Linked DNA regions of Homo sapiens: region 1 is linked to region 2. The links come from fine-mapping of genetic effects on gene expression. A gene starts in region 2. The other region holds a variant in brackets. All regions are shown on one strand. Distances are between the middles of the regions.

Region 1 (2,913 bases), 670 kb before region 2:
TTCATGAGAGTAACAAATATACTGACACAATAAATATGGAAATATATTTGTATCACATGGGAAGAAATGTTTAAATGGAGACTAATATCATAAGTGGTCACTTCTAAGAAACACTCCATTCTCATGTAATTATATTTATAGTAAAAATCATAGAAGACAATGCAGATACAAATCTGACAACTAAGAAAATTGTAAAAATTATGGAATAGTTTTAAAACTTTTTCCTTGAATGTTGGCTCTTTAAACAAAGAAGCCTTAATCAGAGAAATTTACGCATAAGCATGTGATTCTGAATGAGCCTTTTCAAGGACTTTATGTATGAGTATTTGACTTTTGAGGTTAATAGAATCAATTCTTTAATATGGGTTGAGAAATAAAAATAAAGTCCTAAGCTTCTCCAACTGACTGAACACACCATCTCTTGGCCCAGGGGACTCCAGAGAAACCTTAGAAACTGAGTTCCTGGCCATGATGGGCTAGCAGGTCGAACATGCCTCAGTATGCCCCATTCCTTCTAACCTTTAACCAGAATTCTTTCCTAAGGCGTAAGTAAGCAGAAACCAGCTCTGGAAAATGAGAAATGGATGACTCATTACTTTGTCAACTTTAGCCAGTCCTCTGAGGCTGCCACAGGACTCCCTTTCCCACATTGCAGTTTCAACATGACAGCTCACCAGTTAAACCATAAATCCCTTCCTGATAAGAGACCAACAACCATGAAGTGGTTCTGGCCAATCTATGCAGGGTGCACAGCCAGGGCATTTGTGTCCTCCCCTTCATCTTTTGACATTAGGGGGCTGAAAACTCCACTCTCAGATCATGCTAATGCCACAATTTTTTGTACAGGGAATTCATGAAGAGGCATAAAGCTCAATTGTGAAGCACATGTTTCTCCTTTAATAAATATTCATGACTCCTCCTACAGCCTAATAAAAAGGTATTTTCAGCCACTCTGCTCAGCATAAATTCCCGTTTCTTTCAGCACTACCTTGAAGTGCCTGTTTCTGGCTTCTGGCCAGAGGTTACACTTCCCAGCGTGTCAGAATGGCCACCCTGCAGGTTGCAGCCTTTTGTGAGAAATAAAGCTGTCCTTTCCAAATGTATGAACCTTGTGATTCTTCAGCTGACAGGGTAATTCATCTGAAAAACGTAGTTTTTCTTCTTGGAAGTGGACTTCCAATATCATGATGCTAAAAACATGTCATACTGTAATAAGAGCTGTTTTGTACTTTTACAGAAGGAATTTTTAAAAATTTATTTTTAGTTTTTGTGGGTACATAGTAGGTGTATATATTTGTGGGGTACATGAGATATTTTGACACAAGTATGCAATGCATAATAATCACATTAG[G/A]GTAAATGAGGTATCCATTACCTCAAGCATTTATCTTTTGTGTTATAAACAATCCAGTTGTACTCTTTTCATTATTTTAACATGTACAATTAAATTATTACTGACTATAGTCACCCTGTTGTGCTATCAAATAGTAGGTCTTATTCATTCTTTCTAACCATTTTTTGTACCTATTAACAATCCCCACTTGCTCTCCACTACCCCTGCCCCAATACCTTTCCCAGCTTCTGGTAACCATCCGTCTGCCCTCTATCCCTGTGAATTCAATTGTTTCACTTTTTAGCTCCCACAGATAAGTGAGAACATGTACAGTTTGTCTTTCTGTGCCTGGCTTAATTCACTTAACATGATGGCCTCCAGTTCCATCCATGTTGTTGCAAATGACAGGATCTCATTCTTTTTAAAAATATATGTAACATTTTCTTTATCCATTTGTTTGTTTATGGACACTTAGGTTGGTTCCAAGTCCTGGCTATTGTGAACAATGCTGTAGGTATCTCTTCGATATACTGATTTCCTTTCTTTTGGGTATATACCTAGAAGTGGGTTTGCTGGATCATATGGTGACTCTATTTTAGTTTTTGAGGACCCTCCAAACGGTTCTCCATAGTGCTTGTACTAATTTACATTCCCACCAACCGTGTATGAGGATTCCCTTTACTCCACATCCTTGCCATCATCTGTTATTGCCTGTCTTTTGAATAAAAACCATTTTAACTGGAATGAGATGATATCTCACTGTAGTTTTGATTTATGTTTCTCTGATGATCAATGATGTTGAGCATCTTTTTATATACCTGTTTGCAATTTGTATCTCTTCTTTTGAGAAATGTCTGTTCAGACCTTTTGGCCATTTAAAACATTAGATTATTAGATTTTTTCCTATAGAGTTGTTTGAACTCCTTATATATTCTGGTTATTAATCTCTGTCAAATGGGTACTTTTCAAATGTTTTCTCCCATGCTGTGGGTTGTCTTTTCACCTTGTTGATTGTTTCCTTTGTTATGCAGCAGGTTTTTAACTTGATGTGATCCCACTTGCCCATTTTTGCTTTGGTTGCCTGTGCTTGTGGAATATTACACAAGAAATCTTTGCCCAGTCCAATATTCTGGGGGGAGAGTTTCCCCCAATATTTTTTAGTAGTTTCATAATTTTAGTTCTTAGATTTAAATCTTTAATCCACTTTTATTTTATTTTTGTATATGGTGAGAGATATCATTCTAGTTTCACTCTTCTGCATATGCATATCCAGTTTTCCCAGCATCATTTATTGAAGAGACTGTCCTTTCCCCAATGTATGTTCTTGGTACTTTTGTTGAAACTGAGTTCACTGTAGATGTATCATTTTGTTTCTGGGTTCTCTGTTCTGTTCCATTGGTCTATGTGTCTGTTTTTATGCTTGTACCATGCTATTTTAGTTACTACAGCTCTGTAGTATAATTTGAAGTCAGGTAATGTGATTCCTCCAGTTTTGTTCTTTTGTGCTCAGGATAGTTCTGGCTATTCTGAGTCTTTAGTGATTTATAAATTTTAAGTTTGTTTTTTTTTTTCTATGTCTGTGA
Region 2 (2,913 bases):
TTTGGTGCTTAATGGAAAGGGAGCGTGGTGCTAAGAAATAAAGAGAATGGTCTCGTATTTAGTACAATTATCATAATTTTAGAAACAGCCTTGGGCAGAAACAGGCAAAACAATAAGCTGGAGGTTTTGTGGCAAATATTCTCCAAACATATTGCAACCAACTCAAAACCATCAAGTCTCAAGAAAATCAGGCAATGTGAAGCATAAAACTGCATTAGTTCCTTTACTGCCACCACTAAAGAGGGAGGGACTTAGAGAAGTGAAGTGTGCTCCTGGTCTTCGCAGATAATTGAAAGCCCCCGAAAAGCACCCCTTTTTTGAGCTATGTTGCATAACTGGGGATAACCGTATATCGATGAATCTCCATATGAGAAGAGAAATCAATGGCAGTTCGCCATCTTGGAGAATTTAAAAAAAAAAAAAAAACAACCTATAGAGCTAGAGCTGAAGTCGAGATTCACGAATCCACCTACGCGGTCGGCGTACATCTCTCGCAAGCCCCAGAGGCCTGGACATCGGTAAACCTACGCAAAGTCGCTTCGAGAATCCCGGGGGCCGGGCCGGGGCCGCCGCCTCCCACAGCCGGAGGCGCGGGAGGCGCGCTGTCCGCGGAGCAAGAGCCGGCCAGAGAGCCTAGGGACCTCCACCCGGGGCCCGCGCGCCCCAGCCCGGATCCCCGACCCCCGCTTCCACCCCAGAACGTGCATAGCAAACCTCAGGGCTTCAAGAGAACCTAGGGGAACCGCACTAGGAGGAAAAAAGGAACCCCTCCCCTTGCCCTGGCCGGTGCGTGCCCCCTCCCCCAACCCGGGCACCTGGACCGACGCTGGGAACGCCGGGGGCGCCCGGCCAGGGCCAGCAAGGAGTCCGGCCGCCGCCCCCAGCCTGTCAGCGCAGCCCCGGGTGAGGGGGCGTCCCCGGGCCTCGGCCTCCCCGCCCGCCCGGCAGCCGCATCCTCGGCGCCCGCTGCCTAGCACACCTGCGGGCTCGGCCCTCAGTGTTCCAGCCCCGCGCTGCGGTGCCCCCGCGGCCGGCCACCCCGCTCCGGTGCAGGGACCAGGGTACCGGCCGCCACTGGTCCTCACCGTAATGCTCTGAAAGACGCCCCCGGCCGTGGCTGCCCAGACGTATTTGGCGTCGCAGTAGCCGACAATGGCGGCCTCCTGGCAGCAGCCATCGCACATCAGGTTATCCACGTAGCTCTGCCAACCGGCCATCTTCGAGCCCTTCGCACTGCAGCGCGGACGGCGAGGAGCAGCAGGCGCAGCGGCGGCGGCGGCGGTAGCGGGCGGCGGCGGCGCGGGGGGAGGCGGGGCGGGGGCGGGGAGGAGGCGGCTCTGCGCAGGCACCGACCGCCCCCCTCCCCGAGGAGCTGCGGCGGGAGGACGCGGGTTCAGCGATGAGGGACGAACCTCAGAGCGCGCTCGGCCGCCCGGCCGCCCGCAGCCGCGGGGCTGACAAACCAGCGGCGGGAGGCTGCGAAGCGGCTGTGCCTGTGGCGGCTGCTCCTTACCGCAGCGCCCTCCGTTTTCCGCGGACACGGCTGGGCGTGCGCGCGCGCGTGCGTGCGATCCTTCCGCGGCGCCCGGGCACGGAGGGTCCCGGGAAGGGCGGGGGGAGACTGAGGCGGGGGCGCGGAGGGATACCGCCCCGGGACAATCACGGCCGCCACGTGCGGGAGGCGCCGGCCGGGAGCGGTGGCGGGCCGAGCTTCGGACCTCGGGCCGGCGGAGAGGGTGGACCCCGCGTCGCTCTCGGCACCCCAGGAACAGCGGCGGCACGGACGCCTTGGAGCCCCGCGGCCGGGCCGCGATGTGCTTTTCTCCTGTGTTCGCTGCCCGGGATGCGGAATCTTGAGCCTCGGTGTCGGGTTACAGAGTTGTCCTGGTGACGGGATGCGGAGCGTTTCCTCCTTTTTGTTGTGGGGGCGGCTGGTGGCAGGGGCAGCTGGTGGCAGGGTTGCCCACGCTAATCTCCGAGTCTCTAAGGGCACCGTCTTTCCTGGATCCCTCTTGCGCCTCGTCCATAAAGGCAGACCCGCGGGCGCGCGCCGGCAACCTGAAATCAGAGCAGGCGTCCGTGGCGCTCAGGAACCTTGCTGAGCTTCGCCGATCTTTCATTGTTGCTTCATTTGGGTACCAAGGGCCTCTCATTCTGTGGATTCTTTGCCTGGAGGAGCCCCCTTAATGTTGCTAATCACGTGTGGTTAAATTGCTCGTAAATTCCGAACAAAACAAATAGCGACCTGTGTTACACTGTTTCTTGGTAACTGGGAAAGTTACTGGTGGCTTGAAGTATACGCAGAAAATACAAAGATTAAAAACTAGGGAAGAGTTCACTGAATGAACACCGTAACATTTCTGCTCTGCAGGGTAAAATAATTTCGGGACCCAGGTCTGGGAAAGATTTGTATTAACAAGGTAAACGGTGGGTAGAGTGCCTGAGAAGCTATTCGTATCGTCTTTGGTAGCCTCTGGGCACTAGGACTAGACATGGAATTAGGGGTCCCCCAACAATGACTTCAATTTTAGGTTAATAGAAACCATCTGCCACTTAAGGGAAAGAAAGCACCAAAATGTAGATAAGTTGATGTTCACCCTTAAAGTTATCGTGTGAGGTCATGATTTGTAGGAGGATTAAGGAATGTATCTCTGGAAAGGGCAAGAACGTTGCTTTTAAAAGTCTAATTGGTTCTGAAGTTTTATATTTTTTCTGCTGATTGCTTTAAAATGTTCAGCTACTAGAGAGAAAAAAAGTACAGTAAAAGAAACCCCCAAGTCAGAGACCTATCAGACTGAGAATATGTATTTTCTCATGTTCTAAAGATACAGAATACCTGTGTGGTGTAAAATGTGAACCAAAAATTGTTTCATTTTTGTAAGTGTGCCTCCCACCTGATTTAATTACACTTAA

Direction of the effects. Alleles are on the strand shown, and positions count from the first base shown. SD is a standard deviation of normalised expression in the study named.
For the expression in fetal neocortex of the gene that starts at base 1,256 in region 2, A is the high allele of the variant in region 1 and G is the other (large effect, 1.8 SD a copy in Walker 2019).

Evidence for each region.
Region 1: its variant is fine-mapped to the expression of PFN2 in fetal neocortex (Walker 2019, PIP 0.95).

Annotation. Positions count from the first base shown.
Region 1 is chr3:149,299,704-149,302,616 of GRCh38, forward strand. All of the region lies in intron 1 of TM4SF18-AS1 (TM4SF18 antisense RNA 1), which reads left to right. Among named protein-coding and RNA genes, the nearest start is that of TM4SF18-AS1, 16 kb to the left of the region's middle. The variant G/A (reference allele first, on the strand shown) is at 1,352.
Region 2 is chr3:149,969,640-149,972,552 of GRCh38, forward strand. PFN2 (profilin 2) reads right to left here and starts at 1,256. Exons shown (of 3, transcript NM_053024.4): 1 at 1,086-1,256. The coding sequence starts at 1,217. LOC646903 (a long non-coding RNA gene) reads left to right here and starts at 1,640. Exons shown (of 1, transcript NR_036538.1): 1 at 1,640-2,913. RefSeq lists silencers at 452-711, 732-781, 792-1,031, 1,242-1,321, 1,552-1,611 and enhancers at 1,457-1,988, 1,989-2,519.